Homo sapiens: one gene and its partners. The protein of the gene in region 2 purifies or fractionates together with the protein of the main gene of each other region. This does not show direct contact. Each region holds a gene or a part of one and is shown on either strand. Other genes may lie near its edges.

Evidence for each region.
Region 1: the proteins of CDK6 (region 2) and UBE2W purify together in Homo sapiens (affinity purification with mass spectrometry; 3 studies listed by BioGRID and IntAct, with this or other methods). This does not show direct contact.
Region 3: the proteins of CDK6 (region 2) and EIF2AK1 purify together in Homo sapiens (affinity purification with mass spectrometry; 3 studies listed by BioGRID and IntAct, with this or other methods). This does not show direct contact.
Region 4: the proteins of CDK6 (region 2) and CCNT1 purify together in Homo sapiens (affinity purification with mass spectrometry; 3 studies listed by BioGRID and IntAct, with this or other methods). This does not show direct contact.

The regions. Positions count from the first base shown.
Region 1 is NC_000008.11:73,805,844-73,812,875, forward strand, and holds part of UBE2W (ubiquitin-conjugating enzyme E2 W), read right to left. Parts: intron 4,787-7,032; coding exon 4,631-4,786; intron 1-4,630. UniProt on the Homo sapiens protein: Accepts ubiquitin from the E1 complex and catalyzes its covalent attachment to other proteins.
Region 2 is NC_000007.14:92,604,396-92,609,580, forward strand, and holds the end of CDK6 (cyclin-dependent kinase 6), read right to left. Parts: 3' UTR 526-5,185; downstream 1-525. UniProt on the Homo sapiens protein: Serine/threonine-protein kinase involved in the control of the cell cycle and differentiation; promotes G1/S transition. Phosphorylates pRB/RB1 and NPM1.
Region 3 is NC_000007.14:6,049,167-6,056,198, reverse strand, and holds part of EIF2AK1 (eukaryotic translation initiation factor 2-alpha kinase 1), read left to right. Parts: intron 1-1,494; coding exon 1,495-1,653; intron 1,654-6,153; coding exon 6,154-6,287; intron 6,288-7,032. UniProt on the Homo sapiens protein: Metabolic-stress sensing protein kinase that phosphorylates the alpha subunit of eukaryotic translation initiation factor 2 (EIF2S1/eIF-2-alpha) in response to various stress conditions.
Region 4 is NC_000012.12:48,713,708-48,720,788, forward strand, and holds the start of CCNT1 (cyclin-T1), read right to left. Parts: upstream 3,001-7,081; 5' UTR 2,969-3,000; coding exon 2,808-2,968; exon of another isoform or gene 2,578-2,807; intron 818-2,577; coding exon 736-817; intron 1-735. UniProt on the Homo sapiens protein: Regulatory subunit of the cyclin-dependent kinase pair (CDK9/cyclin-T1) complex, also called positive transcription elongation factor B (P-TEFb), which facilitates the transition from abortive to productive elongation by phosphorylating the CTD (C-terminal domain) of the large subunit of RNA polymerase II (RNA Pol II).

The DNA of each region.
Region 1 (7,032 bases), on a different chromosome or scaffold from region 2:
GTATATCTAAAAGAATAAAAACTATAAATGTATTCCAGGAAATGTGTATGCTTAACACCTAAATTTAAAAAAGGAATAATAAGCGTGTTTGAGTGTGGTCTGTGTTAGGTTCTAGCCTGGCCAACATGGTGAAACCCAGTCTCTACTAAAAATACAAAAAAATTAGCTGGGCATGGTGGTGCGTGCCTGTAATCCCAGCTACTTGGGAGGCTGAGGCAGGAGAATTGATTGAACCCGGGAGGCAGAGGTTGCAGTGAGCCAAGATTGTGACATTGCACTCCAGCCTGACAACAGAGCGAGACTCTCGTCTCAAAACAAACAAACAAAAAATTAAATAAATTATAAAGGGAATGAAAAAGGACTGATGAGAAAAGTCAAATTCACATAATAATTTAAACATAGCCGGGCGCAGTGGTGGGCATCTGTAATCTCAGGTACTTGGAAGGCTGAAGCAGGAGAATTGCTTGAACCCAGAAGGTGGAGGTTGCAGTGAGCCGAGATGGTGCCACTGCACTCCAGCTTGGGTGACAGAGTGAGACTCCATCTCAAAAAATAAATAAATAATAAAACAAAGGGCCAGGCGCGGTGGCTCACGCCTGTAATCCCAGCACTTTGGGAGGCCGAGGCGGGTGGATCACGAGGCCAGGAGATCGAGACCATCCTGGCTAACACGGTGAAACCCTGTCTGCTAAAAATACAAAAAAAAAAAAAAAAAAAATTAGCCGGGCGTGTTGGCGGGCGCCTGTAGTCCCAGCTAACTCAGGAGGCTGAGGCAGGAGAATGGCGTGAGACTGGGAGGCGGAGCTTGCAATGAGCCGAGATTGCGCCACTGCACTCCAGCCTGCGTGACAGAACCAGACTTCGTCTCAAAACAAAACAGAAAAGTCTACTAAACTAGATTTGTTGGGAGAAGTATAGCAATGTACAAACCTCCACAAAGAACTGTTTTTACTGTAATAGAATACCATCAAAGATAGACCAGAAGATTCAGTTTCTAAACAATATTTAAGAGAAAAAATGGGAAAAATATATATTGGCATTTCTACTATAATTGGCCTTTCTGCTGAACATATGCCCTGACTAGAACAATATATGAGAAATATATGGCAGCTCCGCAAGGGAGCTACCGCAGATAAAGTGATGCCAACAACACTGAAGATATATTATGGAAGAGACTTTTCCTGAAATTTGTTGCATACTGCCTAGACAAAAGAAAATGTTACCCTCTACAAAGACTTGGAAACATCAAATTTATATTAAAGCTATATTAAAGTTTATAGATACTATGATAGATATCCTTATCCTTTAGTCTCCTTTATGCCTTTCGGAATCATTCCAATAACTTGATTATTTTCCTATCATTAAATATTGTATAGTGTATATGCAGGATTTATTTTCAGACTTAAATCTGCTTAGCTAAGCTAATGAAAATGAGAGATTAAGGGAATCCTCTCCTCTACCTGAGGCTAATGAAAATAAGTGAATTTGGTATGACATCATTTAAGGAAAGTCTAACCAGAAAGCAATCGTGAGTAGGACTCTGTGATAGCAGGAAGGAAAACAGTTAGTCCATTTGGCACTTCTAAAACTCATATATGTAACTATCAGTCTAGTTGAGCCTCACAATGCTCTTATGTGTTAATATTAGTAATTTCATTTAACAAAAAGAAACATTAGAGCATAAGACAGTCAAGACATTTAGGTATTCCAAGTCAATCTGTGGACACAATTTGAGAAAATTCCTAAAAAATGAATATTATGAAATTAGATGCCTGACTACTTCAAGGAAGGGATGATTCTACAAAGTTAAATCTATGTTCATATGGAATTGGTACTACTAGAGCAGATACTTTCACAAACTCATTTTATGTATATGTTGATTAGAACCCAAGAATCATCAGAAAAGTCTTCAAAAAATACATATTTAGAAAAAAGAAATACTCAATTCTATTTGCTTAAATCATTTATCTCCCTGACAAATGATCAGGGAGATACAGTTCTTGGAAAAGAAACTATACAAAAGAAGTCTTACGAAATTGTTTTAGGAATGGGATACAAACTGAAAAGTTTGAACAATGTAAATATATTACAAAGGCATGCAAATAAAGTGGAATTTACTGAAAGTCCTGTGATCTCAATATCAGAAATTATCTTTAATCCACTACAATCTAATGACATACTGGATTTAAATACCTTCAGTTTATGGAACCACTCCTGACTGTGTAAAAGGAAATTGGAATAGAAGAATTATGACTAAAGTCCCAAACACCTAAAGTAAAATATTTAATAGTAGTAGAATTAACAAAGTAAAGCCCATAGAACCATGTCCACTACGGAATAAAATTTACCCGTTTTAATAATAATAAAACGTGTAGATGGGTATTTAAAATACTTTTCTTTTTTCTTTTTTGAGACAGAGTCTTGCTCTATTACCCAGGTTGGAGTGCAGTGGCGTGATATCAGCTTACTGCAACTTCAGCCTCTGGGTTTAAGCAAGTCTTGTGCATCAACCTCCCAAGTAGCTGGGACTACAGGCATGCGCCACCACGCCCAGCTAATTTTTCTATTTTTAGTAAACAGGGTTTAGCCATTTTGCCTAGGCTGCTCTTGAACTCCTGGCCTCAAGTGCTCCACCCTTCTCGGCCTCCCAAAGTAGTAGGATTACAGGCGTGAGCCACTGCACCTGGCCTAAAACACTTTTTAAGGTTTCTTTGGAGCTTAGATCTCTCTAATGCCAGATCGTCTCAATGCCAAGGCAAATTTCCTCTTCATCTTTGTAACTTATCACTTAGCACAGTAAAAGTAGCACATACTAGGTACCTAGTAAATGTTTTTTGAATTTTATCGTATTTCATGGAAATCTTGATTTCTGTATTATCATCTTGGTTAAATATTATACAACTATTACAGTAAAAACATAGTTTATTAGTGCTTTAAATGGAATGATTAGTCTTATACTAAGTGTACAAGAAACACTAGTAGCAGACAACTAGAATGTAAGGGGAATGGTGAGGGTTAGAGGAAGATGAAGGAAGTACACAGAATATAGTCATTCTCTAGTTTTTAATAATAAATCATTATATTTAAATGTAAATAAAATCTAATAATCATGAGGCACATGCAAGACTATGTACAGATATCGCTGACATTAATCTCTTAATAACTTTCTTATTAAATACTGTTGTTACCGTCTCACCTTTCTATAGTCTTTAAGCGTAACAGGAACATAGAAGGCCTTGTACCCACAAACTGCTTTGCCCTACACATAAAAGTTTAAAACGTGTGTGTGTGTTGGGGGTGGGTGAGAGGAGAAAATATAACAGCAATAAGCAACAAATGAGTAAAAAAACAAAACAAAACCAATTTAACCTATTATTTCACATGCTGTGGCTTAGAGTGCTTCAGATTCTAAATAACCTATCATTAAAAAATGAACTATTATCTTAAAAGTTCTCCAAATACTAATTTAATAAAAATGACAATCAGTTCAATTTGGAGAAAAGGAAAGAAAACTGTAAAACACAAATAACTCCCTAACCTCTAGGGCAAAGCTGTTTCTCCTTTAAACAGAATGCAAAAGGAAAACCCTCATAGGGATTTAAGAGGGGTTTTAAAATGTAGAAATACATAAATGTTATGCTATACTAACCCTTAAGCAGGAATGACAAGAGTGTCAGAAGTGTACAGAGGATTCAGATACATTTAAAGGGTATCCTAAATTTATATGTATATTTTAAATTTATTTCATTATTATTTTCTTGAGATGGAGTCTCGCTCTGTCACCCAGGCTGTAGTGTAGTGGCATGATCTTGGCTCACTGCAACCTCCTGGGTTCAAGCAATTCTCCTACCTCAGTCTCCTGAGTAGCTGGGATTACAGGCATATACCATCACACCCAGTTAATTTTTGTATTTTTAGTAGAGACAGGGTTTCACCATGTTGGCCAGCTGGTCTCGAACTCCTGACCGCAGGTGATTCACCTGCCTAGGCCTTCTAAAGTGCTGGGATTACAGGTGTAAGCCACCGTGCCCAGCCTACATTTTAAGTTTAATTAAGTGATTTTTTTTCTTTTTGTTTTTTTTCCCCCCACTTCCATCAGACATAGAATCTGTGGATTAATAAAGGAGAACAGGAAGAAACGCCCTGAAAATTCGACTGGTAAACTGGTCTTCCTCCTTCAACCTAATCATTAGGACAGGGAAGCTCTGGTTCCTGAAAAATTCCCTGAAACAGGTTGATCGGGTGGGAGCTGGCAGAGGGGAGAAGGAAGCTATGATGCACTTTTCTGAGGCTTTCCACTGTGAAATCTACAAAAAGAATTTCTTGTATACTTTTACCTGTGCATGCTTTTGGGAATAAAATCAGCTTTAAGAAAATACCGTACATTTCCTGTTTAAAAGAATATAAAACAGTAAGTCTGGCTTCTACCCCATTCAACATGTAAAACTTCTATTTGGAATGAAAGGTATCAAAATAACTTTCCAATTTATTACTAAACATGAAATTCCCTATAATTTTCAAATAAAAAGCATAAATCCTTCCTCCAAATAAAAATAATTACATATTAAAATTATTTATCTACCTAACTGAAAGAAGAGATATTATCTGGAATAATTCTGAAAAGTCTTACCTTTTCCTTGCAGCTGGAAAGCATGCTAATAATGCTAAGACAAACTGATTGGACTGAGAGCGCTGGGGACCAGTCTTCTGTTAGAATGGATAAACAGATATGACCATTGCTATAAACATGAGGATGAACAGGAATATTTTCACCAGTAAACATGACCTAAGAGAGAATAAAATTCCATTAAAACTCAAATATTCTCTACTACCAAAAACTAAAATATTCTCCACATATAACAAATATTGATTATAAAAAAACAAAAAACCACCAAAATCAGTGCCAGGAACATGATAAACAACTGCTTATTTGTTTACTCTCATTAACTCAGTAAGTATTGGTTTCACTGAACGAATAACCACATAGTAGGGAAAAGATGCCAAATTATTTTTTATTTCGGTTATTTTTGATAAATTCTCCTTAAAAATTCTAAACTACGTATTTTTTACTAGTGAAAGACAACTACATTTATAAGAATGATTTTTCAGATTTTGCTCATTGCTCTCTGCATATAAAAATCAAGTATGATAAAATTCCAAACAAAAATATTCAATTTTGGGAAAATATGAATGACAGGTGGTAGGAACATTCCTCCTACTACTACCTGTTAACAATGTTAGCTCTAAGGCACATGTGCAAAGGGAAATGACTGTTATATATTCCACCTCCTCTAAACTTACACATCCATTATGATGGGTACAAGTTACTAGCTGTTAATCAGTAAATAACTATGTGCCTAGACGAAAAATACAAAAGTTGACCAAGTCTCCCAATTTGCAGTTTTACTCTCCTTTCCCTTTTACTCAATTCTTCTGTAACACTGTTTTTCCTTTCTCTATCATGTCTCAGCAATGTTTTGAATGGTAATAAATCTATTATTTCCTTCCTTTGCTCTAATAATTCAACAAATATCTTAAAGTAGTTTTTCTTAAACTTATTTACCTAAGCAAATAGGCAGGAGAATAAATTCATATATCCTGAGGAATCTGTAAGCATAGTCCAAAGTTGCTCGAAGAAAGCAGAAGTCTTATGTTTACACTGTGTACTATATTTATTCTACAGGTTAGCAGTAATTCCTAATTCCTGACCTCGCCAAAAATCAAACAAAAAAACAAAAGAACACATAGTTGGAAGATCTGCTTAAAAATACAAATTCAAGTGTCCTGCTTTCACAGATTCTAATTTAGTAAGTATAATTAGATTTTTATAAAACCCATCAGATATAAACCAACAATTCCTAAATCAGATTTACAGTATCTCAGCCCTGCAAACTGCCTCATACCCAAGTACAACAGAATATCAGTAAGGAGAAATCTTACCTTAAGTTATAGCAGAAACTGATAAAAGATATACAGTATTGCTTTAGGCATACCCTTTTTTCTCTTTATAGAGCAGAAAAAAGAACCAGTGAGGTAAATATGAATAGAATAAGGTATGCTATAGTTTAATATGGAATATGTTATAGGAAATTACCATAAGCTAAGTTTTATATATATTTTAAATATCTAGCTATGAATCTGATTTTGTTACAATGTTACAATTTTACAAAGATTTACATGTTAATAAAGCAGTCTTTCATATGAGTAGAGTCTTCTAATATTTCAAATATATTAACTAACATATGGGACACATTTCCTTGGCTAAGACTAGATAAGACAGCAAAAGGCATTTTTTTCCCAAAGGAACGATTTTCCATACTTGCATCTATTTCTTTTTTTTCTTTAAATTCTGGACATCAACTCTCCATTCCCACTAATAAAAAAAAAAAAAAAAGCTAAAAAACAAAAGTAAAGTCTCAAAATAAGAGAAATCAAGTCACTTATCCTACCTAATTGCAGAAGACTCCCTGAAAGGACTTTGATTTTGTAATGGCTACGCTCTATGCATGACATTTATCTCAATTACATCTATCGGTGCTAGTACCCTCTTCATTACTTTTTGCTAAAAAAAAGTATTGCTCTGTAAAAGAAAACAAATGCTTACATGGTCTTATAGTTCCACACTGGAGTCTGTCCACAACTGTTTTTTAATGAAATTTTATTTTTCATAAATATGAACTATAGTTTATTACATCATATGCATCTGATACTCCCATGTGTTGTAGATGTACAGAATGGGAGTTTACAAATCTTACGGACATCTACCTTGAGGTATTCATTTTGCCATAAAAAGCCATTTGACCAGTAGGATATTTTCATTAAAACACAAGCAATACCCAAGAGTTTCTTCTTTGGCCACAATTATTTTTTTAAAAGATATTTTTCGGTGTGGCTCATGCCTGTAATCCCAGCACTTTGGCAGGCCGAGGTGGGTGGATCACCTGAGGTCAGCAGTTTGAGACCAGCCTGGCCAACATGGCGAAAACCCGTCTCTACTAAAAAATACAAAAAATTAGCTGGGAGCGGTGGCAC
Region 2 (5,185 bases):
CTCAGACTGTATCTCAGTCATTAAGCAACGCATGATTGTTGAATGAGTTCTTTTTTTTTTTTGAGATGGAGTCTTGCTCTGTTGCTTAGGCAGGAGTGCAGTGGCGCCATCTTAGGTCACTGCAACCTCCACTTCCCAGGTTCAAGTGATTCTCCTGCCTCAGTCTCCTGAGTAGCTGGGATTACAGGCGCGTGCCACCATGCCCGGCTAGTTTTCATGTATTTTTAGTAGACACAGGGTTTCACCACGTTGGCCAGCCTGGTCTTGAACTCCTGACCTCTGGTGATCTGCCTGCCTCGGCCTCCCAAAGTACTGGGATTAAAGGCATGAGCCACCGTGCCCGGCCAATTGTTGAATGAGTTCTAAGCTCACTTAGCTGTTATTTACTTTTTAAACACTAGAAGCCTGAAAAGGAATCTCTTAAAGTAAAACTTTAAAACACATTCTTTCTACCACATGGCCAGGTTGCAAATAAGAAGCACCAAAAAAAAAAAAAAAAAAAAAAAAAGAAAGAAAAAAAACACATTCTGCTAAAACTTGGAATTTAATGAATTTTACTCACTACAGTTATACTCATTTTACATTAAAGTAAAAAAGAAAATAGCCAGGAGAGTAATTCATCTCCAGAAAGCAGTTTAAAGTTATTGTTTTTATTATTTTTATTTGCTACCAATATTTTTATTGTAAGAAATACAAAAGGTATTACAAATATACAAACTATTTGCTCTTTTTGCCTCATTCAATTTAGCTTTCACATAAGTGAACACATTGGACAGTGATATTTCAACACCAATTTTGAAAAAAACAATGAACTTCATCATCTGACAATAAATACCTACATTTTCATTCTAGCACCCAGTAAGACATCCAGTTTCCAAAGGATTATTGGTATGCAACCCTCTGAATTTTCTGACATGTTACCTTTGCCACTGCAACAGAAACACCACTGCAGTTCTCCCTTTCCCAATAAGTCAGAGTAAGGGGCAGGTAAGAATGGCTATCTGACTTCAGAAACCCTGGGTCACAAAGCATCCCTTACTTGAGCTACTTTTAAAACCAGATTTTTAATGATAGGGTACTTAAAGTTTTGGTGGTCCTTGAATGACATATTTTACGTTACATATTTACCCTACTTTTCTATTCTCCTCCTCAGATAGGAAGGGTATAGATAAACTGGCTATATTTTCATCTGCCTCTTGGGAAAGGAGCAAGAGCATTCAGCTCAGAGCATTCTGAAGACAGTAGCCTTAGAGATAAGCTTTCTTTCTTTCTTCTTCTTTTGCTTCAAGAGGGCTTTCTGTGTGTAATGGAGGGATGGTTGCTAGAGTGAGACAGCCCTTCCCCTCTTGCTATGTCTATACCATACCTGAGGCCATTTTTCTTAGAGGGCAAAAACGTTAGAATAGGTAGGAAGGTTCTTGCTTTCAGAGAGCTGTGCTGCACCCACAGGGTGGACCCGACAGGCCACTGTGGTAACTCTCAATCTGTGTACAGAGAAAAGAGAAGCAACATCTGATACAAAGTCACCTGCCAACATTCTTATAAGACTGTGTCCCAGGCAGTGAATTTCCACACTGCTTCTTGGGTCTGCAGAACTCAAAGCACCAAAACAGAGCATTCTGTAGCAATATAAGCAAACGGAATAAGAATAATTATGCACCTTTAAGGAACATGCACCCTTATAAGTCTGTACCCTGATATGAAAATAGCAGAATGAATTTCAAGTATGAAGAAATACAGTAAAAGTGTGGCCTGTAGATGGAGAGAAAACAGCAGCCTGGAATGTGGTTTATATTCTTGATTAGTTTTTCTCTTGGTACCACAGCCAAAACTGAATGCTCTGTACAATGACTTGGTTTAAAAATCAAGATGCATACAAAGATGCTAGAGGCATTTCTAATGGGTGCCATGAGCACAGTCTGTGCCCAGCATCAGGAACCATCTCTAGATGAATGTGGCTAGGTCAAGTTGGGAGTGGTGGCCAGGCCTAGACAGGCACACCTGTGGTCCATGATGTGGAGGAAGATGGAGAGCACCATGTGGACAAGCCAGGATGGTAGCAGGGAACACTTTAGTGGTAGAAAGGAAGAGATACAGGGGACAGAGATGTAGAGGTGTGGGGATGTTGGTCATCTTGGGCTGGTTCACACAGCCTAGATGAGTATCTGATATACACAATTTCTACATTTCTAGAACCATGATTTCAAACACAGAAACTAACAAGTCAAATTTCCAAATTAGATTTTTTTTTTTTACTTTCAAAACATTTTCTATTATAAGTCAGAAGGAAAAAAGCTTACTGTATGTGACAGTCTTCCTGAAACCTAAGAGAAAGTTTTAACCAGGCCCTATGGCAATGCAGAAACACTAATACATTTTACAGTGAAAACCTACTTTAACACATCTCAAAATGATAATCGTATAAAACTTTCTAGTTCTAATTTGCACTCTACGTGAACCAATATTTTTCTTTTCTTAACACATACTGCTCTTCTATACCAAACACTTGCCCTTTAACCTTCAGATAAAAACCTCAAATACCAAAAAATGCAACAAGCTTTTGAGGTGTTGGGAATTGTTGGTTGTTAAAATCCCTTTTATTTTATAATAAATTATACAGGCAATCCTTGCTTTTTATTACCACACTGGATTGCTTCTGTACACAGCTAAGTTGCCTGAAGCATGGAAACTTGGACTTCTCCATCTGACACGTTCTGGAAGCCTCAAGGCACAAGCTGACAGTTCTGCTTCTACAGAAAAACTCTCACACTGCTCTCCTCTCAACAGTACTGCCTGTTCCCACTACTCCACATGACACCTACGAGGGCACTACATCACGTGAGGGAAGCTTCTTCATGAGGGCAGACAAGAGGAGGCACCACCCAGGCACTGGTCTCTGCCTGGCATCTATTCCGAGGGCCACCTGGCACAGTTTCTAAATTAAGGCATATCTAAAATGCTTTTCTACCTTTAGTTTTTATTTTTGCTATATTTTTGCACTCTACTATATGCATATTTAATAAAAACAACTACAAAGTCCTTTACTTTAATTCCTTTACATAATGATAAAACACCTAGATACCCAAAATACTACATCTATATATTCAAATCTACTAATCATGTTACAAATGCATGCAGCTTATTTGGGGGCTTAGTCTAATTTTTATTTTCTTAGGTCCATCAATACCATGATAATGAACATTAGATGCAAAATCCTAACACTTTCTGCCTTCAGTTGTACTTTCACAGGACTAGTGTGATTCAGAAATAAATAACATACATGAATAATAATAGAAATAATTTATGCAAATGTAGAACAACTTGAAAAAAAATCCCCCGCCTGTCAGGTGCTGTTCCTGGGGGTAGCTGATGCTATAAATTCCATGTACTAACTAATATATTTACTACAGGTAATAGGAAAACAAATGAATAAAAAGTGAGGAACTATGATATACATGTGTATATTTTTGCAAACACAGGATCAGAATGAAAAGATATATCATGCACTGTGAGGTTTAAGAAATGTATTACTGCTGGGATTTGTTTTATTATTCAGACTTTAAGATCAAACTGAGAGTTGTTGGTGATCACAGAAATATTGCTAGCTGATACATATTATTGCATTTCATAAAACTTAAGATTAGAAACTTTCAAGTAAGGGTACAACGGGTATCTTCAGAACTTTAACCTAAGCACATCAACGGAATTTTTCTAGGGACCACAGAGAGTTAGAAATTAAATAATTGTGTGGCTCTATGTGTGCTGATTAGTGCTACAGTCATAGTTCTTGGCAGTCAATATGTAGTTATATGCCCCCTTTGAGAAAAACCTACATTTGACAATCCAAACTCCTAAAATTGAGAAAGGGTTATTTGTGTGACCAAACAACTCACACGGAAGATTCCTCTCAACATGAAAATCCCCTGCTACATGAGATAATTTGTTTACATACCTTTAATTACCTAACAAAGAAAAAGAGAGAAAAGAAACTGGAAGCTAAAGAATTGAGAGCTTTTGCCAACTGAAGACGAAGCAGAAAATAAACTTTTCAAAACAAAACTTTTCCAGGCATATCTTTCACCATCACATATATAGAATGATGGAAAATAAAAAAATAAAAAAAAATTCCTGCAATTATACATCTTTTCTTTAAAAAAACAAAAACAAAAACAAAAACTGAGCTTAGCGCCTGAGAGATGCGGGGTAGACAGCTTCACACAGGGCAGCTGCTACCGCATCTCTTTTTACCCGAACTTTCGGAGAATTGTGTTGTACTTATTTATGCACAGAAGACACCCGTTTGCTACTAGGGACATTTTTCTTCCTAAGATTTGCAGAACAGATGCCTCTGAGACAGCAGCAGGGCACTCTGACCTCGGAAAGCAGCCCGCGGGGCCGCACATAATTTCAGGCACCGGCAGGTGAGTGGGAGGCGGGGCCCCAGCCCGGCCTCGCCCACTGCCTCTCTCCTGCCAAAGGGGCGGGGCAACGAGGCAGCGCGCCCGGAAGGCTTTCAAGTGGGAATCAAGTTTTGAGCACGAGCAAATGGGGTTCAGACTGGCCACTGTTATAACAAACCCTGGGGTGGAATTCGGCCTTTCGCATAGGGGCTTTAACTGGACTCTAGTTCCTGGGAGCAGAGGGGCGAATGAGGCGGGGGATTTCTCAGCCAGTTTCTGACTGCCCCTAGTGTATGTGGCATTTTGGTTCAGTATGAATTACTGAGACTCATCTGCTTGCCACTCAGGAGGAAAGTTGGGCAGGCACCGTCGAGTGTCTGCCACTCAAAAGGAATAAGCTGCTTTCTGTGGTGCTGTGCTAAGGAAACTGAAAAATACTGCAATATCCTTCCCTACTAAATTTCAAGTGACACTGCTGTGAGAAAGGTGACCTCTAAAATTAACTTAATCATTTGGGGTATAAGAAGTCTTTAAGTAGACTTGTAAATTTAAAAAAAGTATATAAAGTTGCCAAAAAACTTCAAAAGTTAAGTATGTAGACACACTCCTAAGTTGTTATGCTCATATACTTCAGACTTTTTTTTTTTAATTAGAGCTTCTTATGAATTTACATTTGTGATTCCACAAATGTTAAAATTACCTGGTCTTTTGGTATTTTAGGGCTCTGTTTCAATACAGCAATTTTTCAGACAAAAGTTTTGTCTACTGAATTACTGATGTGCTAC
Region 3 (7,032 bases), about 87 Mb from region 2:
GCCTCAGCCTCCTGAGTAGCTGGGATCACAGGTGCACACCACCACGCTCACCTAATTTTTGTATTTTTAGTAGAGACGGTGTTTCACCGTGTTGGCCAGGCTGGTCCTGAGCTCCTGACCTCAGGTGATCTGCTTGCCTCGGCCTCTCTAAGTGCTGGAATTACAGATGTGAGCCACCACACCCAGCTAGTTTTTTTTTTTTTTTTTTTTTTTTTTGAGACAGAGTTTCACTTTGTTGCCCAGGCTGGAGTGCAATGGCACGATCTCAGCTCATCTCAACCTCTGCCTCCTGGGTTTAAGGGATTCTCCTGCCTCAGCCTCCTGAGTGGCTAGGATTGATTACAGGCATGCGCCACCACGCCTGGCTAATTTTGTTTTTTCGTAGAGACAGGGTTTCTCCATGTTGGCCAGGCTGGTCTCGAACTCCTGACCTTAGGTGATCTGCCTGCCTCGGCCTCTCAAAGTGCTGGGATTACAGGCATGAGCCACTGTGCCCAGCTAGGTTTTTTTTTTTTTTTTTTTACCTGTTTAGTCATGTCTTAAATAAACAGTAAGTGAGAACTTAACGACCTTCAGCCTTAGTGCCAACTCGTCTGTCTGCATGGTCTCATACAGTGCAAAGAGGATGGGGTTCGGGAGTCAGTCTGATCTGCCTTGTTCACTGGTTCCTCAGCCTCTCTGAGATCAGTGTTTTCATCTGTAAAATGAGGATGAACACTTACCTTATATTATTTTTTGAGCATTGAAGGAGATTGTACATGTAGATAAGTAGCACACGCTCATCGAGAAAAGTTTCCATTTTTCCTATCTTTCCCTCTGTCATCTGCCCAACTTCTTTTTTTTTTTTTTTTTTTTTGAGACGGAGTTTCGCTCTTGTTGCCAAGGCTGGAATGCAATGGTTGATCTCGGCTCACCGCAACTTCTGCCTCCCAGGTTCAAGCTATTTTCCTGCCTCAGCCTCCTGAGTAGCTGGGATTACAGGCGCCTGCCACCACTGCCCGGCTAATTTTGTATTTTTAGTAGAGATGGTGTTGCTCCATGTTGGTCAGGCTGGTCTCAAACTCCTGACCTCAGGTGATCCACTGGCCTCAGCCTCCCAAAGTGCTGGGATTACAGGCATGAACAACCGCGCCCGGCCATCCTCTGCCTAACTTCTTTCTTTATGCCTGGGTCTTGGCTGTCTTCTCAAAGGAAGGAAGCCATCCTAGTCCCACTTCCTTGCGTATTGATTTATTTGTACTATTGGACACATCAGAAAACTGTTTCTCCTCTGTCTCACGGCATCTTTCTGCTGATCCTCCAGCTTCCAGGATTCAGCTCCAAATTCACTTCCAGAAAGCCTTTCTTGATTAACCCAACTCAGCATAACTATTCTTTTGGTTTTTATCTGCTTACATTTAAATATTTCATGTTTCATTAATTAGAATATACGGTTTTGTCATTATGAGACAGGTTTACCATTAATTTAAAAATATTTTCCTTTTTAATTTTTAGAATCTGATGTTCCAGCAGAAATCCAGGTGTTAAAAGAACCCCTACAACAGCCAACCTTCCCTTTTGCAGTTGCAAACCAACTCTTGCTGGTTTCTTTGCTGGAGCACTTGAGCCACGTGCATGAACCAAACCCACTTCGTTCAAGACAGGTGTTTAAGCGTAAGTAAGAATAAATGAATCTTGCTAAATAAAGCTTGTAAAGGCTGGGCTCCGTGGTTCATGCCTGTAATCCCAGCACTTTGGGAGGCTGAGGTGGGCGGATCACCCGAGGTCCGGAGATCGAGATCGGTTTGGCTAACATGACGAAACCCCCTCTTTACTCAAAATATGGAAATTAGCCGGGTGTTGTGGCAGGCACCTGTAACCCCAGCTACTCGGGAGGCTGAGGCGGAGAATCAGTTGAACTGGGGAGGTGGAGGTTGCAGTGAGCCGAGATAGCGCCACTGCACTCCAGCCTGGGTGAAAGAGTGAGACTGTCTCAAAAATAAATAAATAAAGCTTGTAAAAATACTGTGTTGCTGTTCTCACTTATTCATGGGAGGTAAAAATTAAAACAATTGAACTAATGGAGATAGAGTAGAATGATGGTTCCCAGAGGCTGGGAGGATAGTGGAGGATGGTTAATGGGTACAAAAATATAGTTAGAATAAATTGGATCTAGTATTTGATAGCACAGCAGAGTGACTACAGTCAACAATAATTTATTGTACATTTAAAAAATAATAAAAAAGATGGCCAGGTGCAGTGGCTCATGCCTGTAATCCCAGCACTTTGGGAGGCCAAGGTGGGTGAATCACTTGAGGTCAGGAGTTTGAGACCAGCCTGACCAACATGGTGAAATCCCATCTCTATTAAAAAAAAAATGCAAAACTACCCAGGCGTAATGGCACATGGCTGTAATCTCAGCTACTTGGGAGGCTGAGGTAGGAGAATTGCTTGAACCCGGGTGGCGGAGGTTGCAGTGAGCCGAGATCACGCCACTGCACTCCAGCCTGGGCAACAAGAGCTAAAGTCCATCTCAAAAAAAAAAAAAAAAAGAATGGGCTGGGCGCGGTGGCTCACGCCTGTAATCCCAGCACTTTGGGAGACTGAGGCAGGTGGATCATGAGGTCAAGAGATCGAGACCATCCTGGCTAACATGGTGAAACCCTGTCTCTACTAAAAATACAAAAATTAGCTGGGCATGGTGGCGGGCACCTGTAATCCCAGCTGTAATTTGGGAGGCTGAGGCTGGAAAATCATTTGAACCTGGGAGGCGGAGGTTGCAGTGAGCTGAGATCGCGCCATTGCACACCAGCCTGGCGACAGAGCAAGACTCAGTCTCAACAAAATAAAAATAACGAAAAGAATATAATTGGATTGTTTGTAACACAAAGAAGGGATAAATGCTTTAGATGATGGATACCCCATTTATCCTGATGTGATTATTACACATCACATGTCTGTATCAAAATATCTCATGTACCCCCATAAATATATACATCTACCATATACTCACAAAAATTAAAAATACAAAATAAAAATATGTTGTTTAATGCTGTGAGTCTGGAAAGCGTCTGGTATACAAAAATTGGAGTGAAATAAATATTAATGATTTCCCTACTTCAATTCAGCTTACATTTTTCTTTGAGTAATTCCTTACAAATATAACTGTGGATCCCATAATTGCATAAAATTGAATAAATGAAATATAGTTCTTTTGCATCTATACTATGATAATGCTCACAATTTTTTTTTTTCTCGAGATGGAGTCTCACTCTGTTGCCCAGGCTGGAGTGCATTGGCGCGATTTCCGCTCACTGCAATCTCCGCCCCCCGGGTTCAAGTGATTCTCCTGCCTCACCCTCCCGAGTAGCTGGGGTAGGCACGTGCCACCATGCCCGGGTAATTTTTGTATTTTTAATAGAGACGGGGTTTCACCATGTTGTTCAGGCTGGTCTCGAACTCCTGACCTGGTGATCCACCCGCCTCGGCCTTCAGTGTGCTTTGATCACTCCTGTGAGTAACCAGTGTGCTCCAGTCTGGGTGACATAGTAAGACTCTGCCTCTAGAGAAAAAAAAAAAAAAGAATAGTTCCAGCCAGAGATTCTGAGGTTCTTTTTTTTTTTTTTTTTTTTTTTACCAAAACAGTCTCAAACTTATAGATACTTTTATGTGGTCTTAAAACTGAATGCGTTTTTAGTTAAAGATACATTATCATTTTGATAAACTTGATGGGACATGAAAAATGGTACAAATATCTGTACATTGTACACCTACTGCTTCTTGAATAAAGCAAATAATACACTCTGCATTCCAAGCAGTGGCATATGTGGTGGGAGGTGGGGTGAACAGAAGGAAGTGTATTCCTTAGGTTCTGAAGCATTGGTGACTGGGAATTATTGTATTAGTCTCATCAAATAGAGAAGCAGATTAGAAAAATACAGTAATCTTGTACATGATTAAAGCAATCCTGTGAATTTTACTGATTTTAAGATAATTTTGAATTCCTTATATACAGCCTCTTTAGATGACTTTTTTTTTTTTTTTTTTTGATAAGGAGTCTTGCTCTGTCGCCCAGGCTGGAGTGCGGTAGTGCGATCTCGGCTCACTGCAACCTCCACCTTCTGGGTTCAAGCGATTCTCTTGCCTCAGCCTCCCAAGTAGCTGGGACTACAGGCACCCACCACCACGCCCGGCTGATTTTTTGTATTTTTAGTAGAGACGGAGTTTCACTGTGTTAGCCAGGATGATCTCGATCTCGTGACCTCATGATCCACTGGCCTTGGCCTCCCAAAGTGCTGGGATTACAGGTGTGAGCCACCATGCCCAGTCTAGATGACTGAAGTTTAAAACAAGGTTATTTAAATAAATGTTTTTGATGTAATCAGTGAGTTGATAATCTAAATGGAGAGTTTTCTATTTCTTTTTTCTTTTTTTTTAGCAACAAATGTGGCTTTCATAACTGTAGAGTTTTTGATGCAGAAAGAATATCCTTGGTGGGGCACGGTGGCTCACGCCTGTAATCCTAGCACTTTGGGAGGCTGAGGTGGGCGGGTCACGAGGTCAGGTGTTCGAGACCAGCCTGGCCAACATGGTGAAACCCCATCTCTACTAAAAATACAAAAATTAGCCAGGTATGTTGGCGGGTGCCTGTAATCCCAGCTACTTGGGAGGGTGAGGCATGAGAATCCCTAGAATCCAGGAGGCGGAGGTTGCAGTGATCTGAGATCGCTCCACTGCCCTCCAATTTGGGCAACAGGGTGAGACTCTGTCTCAAAAAAAAATTAGCCAGGCGTGGTGGTGTGCACCTGTAATCCCAGCTACTCAGGCGACTGAGGCAGGAAAATCGCATGAACCCTGGAGATGGAGGTTGCAGTGAGCCGAGATCGTGCCATTGCACTCCAGCCTGGGCGACAGAGTGAGAGTCTGTCTCAAAAAAAAAAAAAAAAGAAAGAAAAAAAAATGTCCTCATTGGTATCTGTATTTGTTGAATGAGTAGGAGCCAAGGCACCTTTGTGGAAACTTACTTTTTCTAAGGAGCTTGATATTTGGTTTACACACGTGTACCATGGGCTCTTTGTATGTTGGTTAAAGGTATTTCGTGACGATGAATGGTCACTTTTGTTGTAAGTTCTCATCATATGTTTGCCCTCCTGCTCTTATTCTTCTCTTACTGCCTAACAGCAAAGGGTAATGTGTGGAATGTCAGAAGAGTTTGTTTACTCTTTTTTTTGTTTGCCCTTTTTTTAGAAATGGCTTAGTACTTTACTGACTAGTCTTGGTAAACAAGTGACTGTACAGGGTAAGAGAAGTAATTATAGGCCGGGTGCAGTGGCTCATGCCTGTAATCCCAGCACTTAGGGAGGCCAAGGTGGGTGGATCACGAGGTCAGGAGATCGAGACCATCCTGGCTAACACAGTGAAACCCCTTCTCTACTAAATATACAAAAAAATTAGCTGGGCCTGGTGGCAGGCGCCTATAGTCGCAGCTACTCAGGAGGCTGAGGCAGGAGAATGGCATGAACCCGGGAGGCAGAGCTTGCAGTGAGCCGAGATCGCGCCAGTGCACTCTAGCCTGCGTGACAGAGTGAGACTCCATCTCAAAAAAAAAAAAAAAAAAGAGAAGTAATTATAGTTGTGCTTTTCATGAATGAGTGTACTAGTTGTTCCTTCTCTTTTAGAGAATCATTCCCCAAGTTTCTTCGCTTTTTAAAAAAATTTATCTAAGGGCTGGGCCTGGTGGCTCATGCCTGTAATCCTAGCACTTTGGGAGGTGGAGTTGGGCAGATCACTTGAGGCCAGGAGTTCGAGACCAGCCTGGCCAATGTGGCGAAACCCCGTCTTTACTAAAAATAGAAAAATTAGCTGGGCATGGTGGCACACGCCTGTAATCCCAGCTACTTGGGAGGTTGAGGCAGAAGAATCACTTGAACCCGGGAGGTGGAGGTTACAGTGAGCCAAGATAGTTGTCACTGCACTCTCTGTCTCAAAAAAAAATTTCTTTTACGTTATTCTAGAGAACATTCTCCAAGTTTAACGTGTTTATAAATATAGTATTTTTCCTATTGAGGTTTTTGTATATATTGCTATTATTACACGTTATTCTCTGTGTACACTTTAAAATTGCCATTTTATTAAAGATGTTTCTAATAATAGTTTTTCATATTCTTTTTATAGTACTTTGCCAGACGTTTATCAAAATGGGGCTGCTGTCTTCTTTCACTTGTAGTGACGAGTTTAGCTCATTGAGACTACATCACAACAGAGCTATTACTCACTTAATGAGGTCTGCTAAAGAGAGAGTTCGTCAGGTAAGCCCTAAAAAATATACTTTGGGTATGACAAAAATATACTTTAATTTTAAGATAATTATATTTTAAAGCACTGTGAAATTCTGATTATAAAACAAGTTTTTAAAAGTATAAACTCTAGGCCAGGCATGGTGGTGTGGCTCATGCCTTAATCCCAGCACTTTGGGAGGCTGAGATGGATCATTTGAGGCCAGGAGTTCAAGGCTGCAGTGAGCCATGGTTGTGCCACTGCACTCCAGCCTGAGCAGCAGAGTGAGAACCTGCCTGAAAAAAAAAAAAAAAAAGAGAGGAGAGGCAAAGGAGAGGCCACAGATGGACTGGGATCTTGAGACAATTTCAATTTATTTTTGTTTTGTTTTGTTTCGTTTTGAGACAGAGTCTCGCACTGTCATCTGGGCTGGAGTGCAGTGGCGCAATCTTGGCTCATTGCAACCTCTGCCTCCCAGATTCAAGGGATTCTCCTGCCTTAGCCTCCCAAGTAGCTGGGACCACAGGCACCTGCCACCACACCCAACTAATTTTTTGTATTTTCAGTAGAGACAGAGTTTCTTCATGTTGGCCAGGCTGGTCTCGAACTCCTGACCTCGTGATGTGCCTGCCTTGGCCTCCCAAGTGCTGGGATTACAGGCGTGAGCCACCGCGCCCTACCTAATTTATGGTTTTTAGTAAGATGGGAGGTGGTACAGGATTTTGATTAGAGGAGTGACACAATCTGACTTACATTTTAGTGGGGTCACACTGGCTG
Region 4 (7,081 bases), on a different chromosome or scaffold from region 2:
CAGAAGGTTAAGGCTGCAATGAGCCATAATCAAATCACTGCATTCCACCATGGACAACAGGGCAAGACCCTGCCTGTCTCCCTACCCCAGCAAGAAAAAGAAAGCTATACCTAAATTCCACATGATTTCCCCTTTAATGTTACTCCTCCAACCCCAAAATGTTGACTTTAGATGTCTGATAATCTGTTTTTTGGGGTTTTTTTTGAAGACAGGGTCTCACTCTGATGCCCAGGCTGGAGTGAAGCGACTCAATCTTGGCTCACTGCATCCTCAACTCCCTGAGTTCAAGCAATCCTCTTGCCAGCTGCTGGAGTAGCTGAGACCACAGATGCATACCACAACACCCAGCTACTTGCTTTTTGTTTTTGTTTTTGATATTTTGTAGAAATGAGGTCTCATTATGTTGCCCAGGCTGGTTTTGAACTCCTGGGCTCAAGTGATCCTCCCATCTCAGTCTCTCAAAGTGCTGGGATTACAGTTGTGAGCCACTGCACCCGGCCTAATCTACTTCTTTAGAGAATCGACATGGATATACTAAATCCACTAGACAAGTAGACACTTAACAGGAAAACTGAAAAGCTGGATTCAGAACAGCAACACAGCACATAATGGAAGTGATCAACCCTAAATTCTAAAGTTCAAGTTACAGTTCAGTAGCAAAGACCAACCACAAATGGAATAGGTAGGTGGAATCAATCACAAAAGGATTATATCATATAAAAAAATTATACTTACATTTCCAGGGAACTGTGTGAAGGACTGAATCATGTAGAATCGATGCATGTATACTATAGCAGTGTTGATAGTCAATTGTGAGCTGAAGTGTTCAAGTTAAGATCCAAAAACAGGCAGGTATAATTCTGGAAAAGATAACCTCTATCTCCCTCCCAAAAGGATGAAATGGCCAAGCAAGTAGATACTACTAAATGAAAATCATACTTATCTCTCCAAATCAAAGAATATGTCTGTTTTCTTTCACCAAATTATTAATCGCCAACTGACACTTAGCACAATGCCTTACACATAACAAATATTTAATATAAATGTACTGAATGAATAAACAAACATCTCAGGATGTATGAATCTAGACAGATTTTTTTAAAAACTATATAAGGCGGCCAGGCGCGGTGGCTCACACTCTGTCGCCCACACTGGAGTGCGGTGGCACCATCTTGGCCCACTGAAACCTCTACCTCCCAAATTCAAGCGATTCTCCTGCCTCAGCTTCCCCAGTAGCTGAGATTACAGGCGCCCACCAACAGACCTGGCTACTTTTTGTATTTTTAGTAGAGACATGGTTTCACCATGTTGGCCAGGCTGGTCTTGAACTCCTGGCCTCAACTGATCGACCTGCCTTGGCCTCCGAAAGTGCTGGTATTACAGGCGCGAGCCACCGCGCCTGGCTGACAACCTTAATGACAACACACATACAAAAAGGAAAGCATTTTAAGGATGCACTGAAATAGAATTTCGAACAAAAAGATTTAACTCCATACTGACAGGATGCTTAGGAAACAAACCTGGACATCAGCAGGAAACAAACTGGCGATAAAACAGACACCCATTTTGAGATGAACACACCCTTAAGATACACACATTACTGTCAGCCACACATTTAAATAGAAGCTGCACCCAAGAAAATTTTCACACGCAGAGTGGAAAGAAATTTAAAACTATACTAGTTTTCTCCACCATAAAATAAGTGTATTTCCTAACAAACAAAAATATGTGGGAGAGGTTACCTCATTTTTTTTTTAATTTTTTTTTTCTGAGACGGAGTTTCACTATTGTTGCCCAAGCTGGAGTGCAGTGGCGCCATCTCGGCTAACTGCAACCTCCGCCTCCCGGGTTCAAGCGATTTTCCTGCGTCGGCCTCCTGACTAGCTGGGATTACAGCTGCCCGCCACTACGCCGGGGTAATTTTTTGTATTTTTAGTAGAGACAGGGGTTTAATCATGTTGGCCAGGCTGGTCTCGAACTCCTGACCTCAGGTGATCCACCCGCCTCGGCCTCCCAAAGTGCAGAGATTACAGGCGTGAGCCACCGCATCCAGCCGTTACCTCATTTTTGAAAATGAAATACATATCATCACTCTAAGTAAGTTAAGGACCCGGTATTTTGTAAACTATTTAAAACATTAGATTCGTGGGTATCCCCTACAAACGTAAACTAACATCTTTCCTCTGAAATTCTATAAAACAGTAGCTACTAACTGAGCATCTGAATGCAAAGCACTGTGCTGGACACAGAATCAAACACAAGAGGTATTATCCCATTTTATAGACAAGACGGCCAAAAATTTGAGAGGTCACTTAAACAGCTAGTAGATGAGGAATGGATTTTGGACCAAGGCTGAGGCATTAATTCTAGTCCACCCTTTATAACACTTTCAGGTACTGAATTTCTCGAAATTTACACACTAGGTTTGGGAGGCAGCCGTCAACAGAGAAACCTCTGCCAGACCTAGACCCCTAGGGCACAGCGGAAAATGAGAATCTTAACGTCACCAGAGCAGATCAGAACACAATGAAGACAGAGTTGGAAGGGCTGGTTAAAACACAAAGCCGGGAAGGATACGAATTCCCAGCAAGGCTGGCGGCACGGGTGAGCGAGCGGGAAATCAACTCTGCCTCGCTTCCCTAGCGCTAACTGAGTTTCAGCCCGCCCCATCGTGGGCTCTCCCAACTAGACATCCAGCTTCTGCCCACCTTCTTCCCCACTTTCGTCCCCCCCACAGAGCCTGAGACCCGGACGCCAGAGCATGGCGGGACCAACTCCAAGGCCGAAGGCCTAGGCCACAAGGATACACGTTAAGACGCTGCCCCATGTCCTGAAGCAGATTGGCCGCCTGCTGGCGATAAGAAAGTTCTTTATCTGGGTCCACGCCAAAACGACGGGATGGGCTATTTTCCAGCTGTTCTCGAGTGAAATACCACCGTTTGTTGTTGTTCTTCCTCTCTCCCTCCATAGTGCTTCAACCAGAAGGCAGCGGCGAAGGCTGCAGGCACTTCCCAGCGTCACCTAAGAGGCGACCCACATCCGCTGTGCGGGGGCAACTGCGACTTGACGAACTTCCGCTAAGCGTCGACCGCCGGGTTGTTACTTGCCTCCGTAGAGGAAGCAAAAGTCAAAGGACCTACTTCCGGAATGCACCTCGCTACACCCCGTAGCCGAGTTAACAGCCAATATGCGACCAGAAAAAACCTTGAGGCGAGGACGCAGGCGCGTCACGTGACCGTTGGGCGGTGGAGTGGGGTTAGAAGTTCTTTCTTAAAAACCGTGTATCTTCCCGCGAGAACCGGATTGAGCGTTGGCGCCCCGGGTCAGGCTGCGAGGCCGCAATTATAGTGGGATGGGGCGGCCGCCCACGCGCCGCTTGGCGGTTCTTACGAGAACTTTGTTTGTGACGGCAGTGGTGATGTAAAATGGGGCAGATGGGCCGGGCGCGGTGGTTCACGCCTGTAATCCCAGCACTTTGGGAGCCCGAAGCGGGCGGATCACGAGGTCAGGAGTTCGAGACCAGCCTGGCCAATATGGTGAAACCCCCGTCTCTACTAAAAATACAAAATTAGCCGGCGTGGTGTCGCGCGCCTGTAGTCCCAGCTACTCGGGAAGCTGAGGCAGGAGAATCGCTTGAACCCGGGAGGCGGAGATCGCAGTGAGCCGAGATCACGCCACTGCACCCCAGCCTCCAGCCTGGGTGAGAAAGCGAGACTCCGTCTCAAAAAAATAAAATAAGTAAAAATGTGGCAGATGAACTTGAAAGAGAAAGTAGGTGAGGCTGTCAGAAACTGAAAAACAGAATCAAATGGTGGGGCTCTTTCGTATATCGGAGCATAAAGCAACTAGAAGGCTGTTACATTGTTGGTAGCAATGTAAAATGCGACAACCCATTTGGAGAGGTCGCTTTAATGTGTAGCCAAAGGCATGAAAACATTCTCACGTTGTTCGCCAGTGATCCAACTTAAAGGAATAAAATGAAATTAATAACATTAATTAAGAGCTTACATGTCCCAGGCACAATACTGACTTAAATATACTGTTTCATTTATTCAGCACAACTCTAAGAGGTAATTTTTAAGTACGTTTGCGAATGGGTGAACTAAAACTGCCCCTTGAGTGTGGAAAGCCTCCACCACTACCCCTCACTTGCACAGATTAGCAAGTTCTTGCCCTCTGTCAAAATATTTCCCAGCTCCTTTGCCGGGCGCGGTGGCTCAAGCCTATAATCCCAGCACTTTGGGAGGCCAAGGCGGGTGGATCACCTGAAGTCGGGAGTTCGAGACCAGCCTGGCCAACATGGTGAAACCTCATCTCTACTGAAAATACAAAAATTAGCCAGGCGTGGTGGCGCACGCCTGTACTCCCAGCTACTCGGGAGGCTGAGGCAGGAGAATCATTTGAACCCGGGAGGCAGAAGTTGCAGTGGGCCGAAATCGCGCCACTGCACTCCAGCCTGGGCAACATTGCGAGACTCCTTCTCAAAAAAAAAAAAAAAAAAAAAGATACATCCCAGCTCCAGCCTCTGATAACTGTTTGGTGCTGGGCAAGATAGTTAACTTCTCTATGCCTCTTTTCTGTGATAATACCTATGTTTTAGATAGTGAAAGGGAGTAAAGATTTAATGAGTAAAAAGTATTTATAATAGTACCTAGTACTTAGAAAATATTCAGTAGCCCTTATTGTTATAATATTTGTTACATTGTATTGAAATTGAAGGCAAGAGCAATGCCTTCATTTTTGTATGGCACTTACCTAGTAAAGCCCTGGCCCTAGTAAATAGTCCATAAATCTTTGTCAGATAAATGTGCAAAACACCCACAATACAGAAACTGAGGCTTTGGGAGTTTGCCCTCACTACACCACTAATAAGTGTAGATCTTAAATCTAATTCCATTGATCTTTCCATTCACGCAAGCTGTATTCCTGCTTTTCTGGAACCATATTCAGTTTACCTTGATTAAATATGGGTAATTTTAGATAGATTTGGATAATATTAGAATCCTTCATCTTGCTTTGATAATATTTTGGGTTTTGTCATTTCTAGGCATGGGTGATCTTACTATGCTTGATTGTCATTCATTCTCAGAAGTATTTCTTTCCATTCAGGTCACCTCTGCCATATACTGCCTGTAGTTAGTATTAGCTCCATTTTACCCTGGAGAAATTGAGGTTCAGGAAGATTTAAATGACTTACTTCTAGTTATAAAGTAAAAGAACTTGGGATTTCAAATTTCTTCCCTCACAGACTCTTTACTATTAAGAGAATAAGCACTTACAAAATAGATTTTTTAGTAGAATAAGCACTTTTTCAGTTATGTAGTCATGTATGTTATCTTTTGAACAGCTGTGTTAGTCCATTTTCACGCTGCTGATAAAGACAAACCCAAGACTGGGCAATTTACAAAGGAAAGAAGTTTAATGGAGAACTCACAGTTCCACGTGGCTGGGGAAGCCTCACAATCATGGCGGAAGGCAAGGAGGAGCAAGTGACATCTTACATGGATGACAGCAGGCAAACAGAGAGCTTGTGCAGGCAAACTCCCATTTTTTTAAAACCATCAGATCTCATGAGACTCATTCACTATCATGAGAACAGCACAGGAAAGACCCACCCCCATAATTCAATCACCTCCCACCGGGTTCCTCCTACCATATGTGGAAATTGTGGGAGTTGCAATTCAAGATGAGATTTGGGTAGGGACACAGTGCCAAACCATATCATTCCGCCCCCAGCCCCTCCCAAATCTCATGTCCTCACATTTCAAAATACAGTCATGCCTTCCCCACAGTCCCCCAAAGTCTCAACTCATTTCAGCATTAACTCAGAAGTCCACAGTCCAAAGTCTCATCCGAGACAAGCAAGTTCCTTCCACCTATGAGCCTGTAAAATCAAAAGCAAGTTAGTTACTTCATAGATACAATGGTGGTACAGGCATTGGGTAAATACAACCATGCCAAATGGGAGAAATTGGCCAAAACAAAGGGGCTACAGGCCCCATGCAAGTCCGAAATCCAGCAGGGCAGTCGAATCTTAAAACTCCAAGATGATCCCCTTTGACTCCCTGTCTCACATCCAGGTCACACTGATCCAAGAGGTGGGTCCCCATGGTCTTGGGCATCTCTGCCCCTGTGGCTTTGAAGGGTACAGCCTCCCTCCTATCTCCCTTTCCAGGCTGGCATTGACTGTTTGTGGCTTTTCCAGGTAAATGGTGCAAGCTGTCAATGGAGCTACCATTCTGGGATCCGGAGGACCATGGCCCTCTTCTCACAGCTCCATGAGGCAGTGGCCCAGTAGGGATTCTGTGTGGGGGCTCCAACCCCACATTTCTCTTCCACACTGCCCTAGCAGAGATTCTCCATGAGTGCCCTGCCCCTGCAACAAACTTCTGCCTGGGCATCCAGATGTTTCCATACATCTTCTGAAATCTAGGCGGAGGTTCCCAAAGCCCAATTCCTGACTTCTGTGCACTCACAGGCTCAACACCATGTGGAAGCTGCCAAGGCTTGGGGCTTGCACCTCTGAAATCACAGCCCAAGCTCTGTGTTGGCCACTTTCAGCCATGGCTGGAGTGGCTGGGATGCAGGGCACCAACTCCCTAGGTGGCACACAGCACACATGGGGACCTTGGGCCTGGCCCACGAAGCCATTTTCTCCTAGACCTCTGGGCCTGTGATGGGAGGGGCTGCCATGAAGGCCTCTGACATGCCCTGGAGACATTTTCCCCATTGTCTTGGGTATTAACATTCAGCTTCTCTTTAGTTATGCAGATTTCCTCAGAAAATGGGTTTTTCTTTTCTATCACGTCAGGCTGCAAATTTTTCAAACATTTATGTTCTGCTTCCCTTATAAAACTGAATGCTTTTAACAGCACCCAAGTCACCTCTTGAATGCTTTGCTGGTTAGAAATTTCTTCGGCCAGACACCCTAAATCATCTCTCTCAAGTTCAAAATTCCACAAATCTCTAGGATGGGCAAAATGCTGCCAGTCTGTTTGCTAAAATATAACAAGAGTCACCTTTGCTCCAGTTCCCGACAAGTTCCTCATATCCATCTGATACCACCTCAGCCTGGACCTTA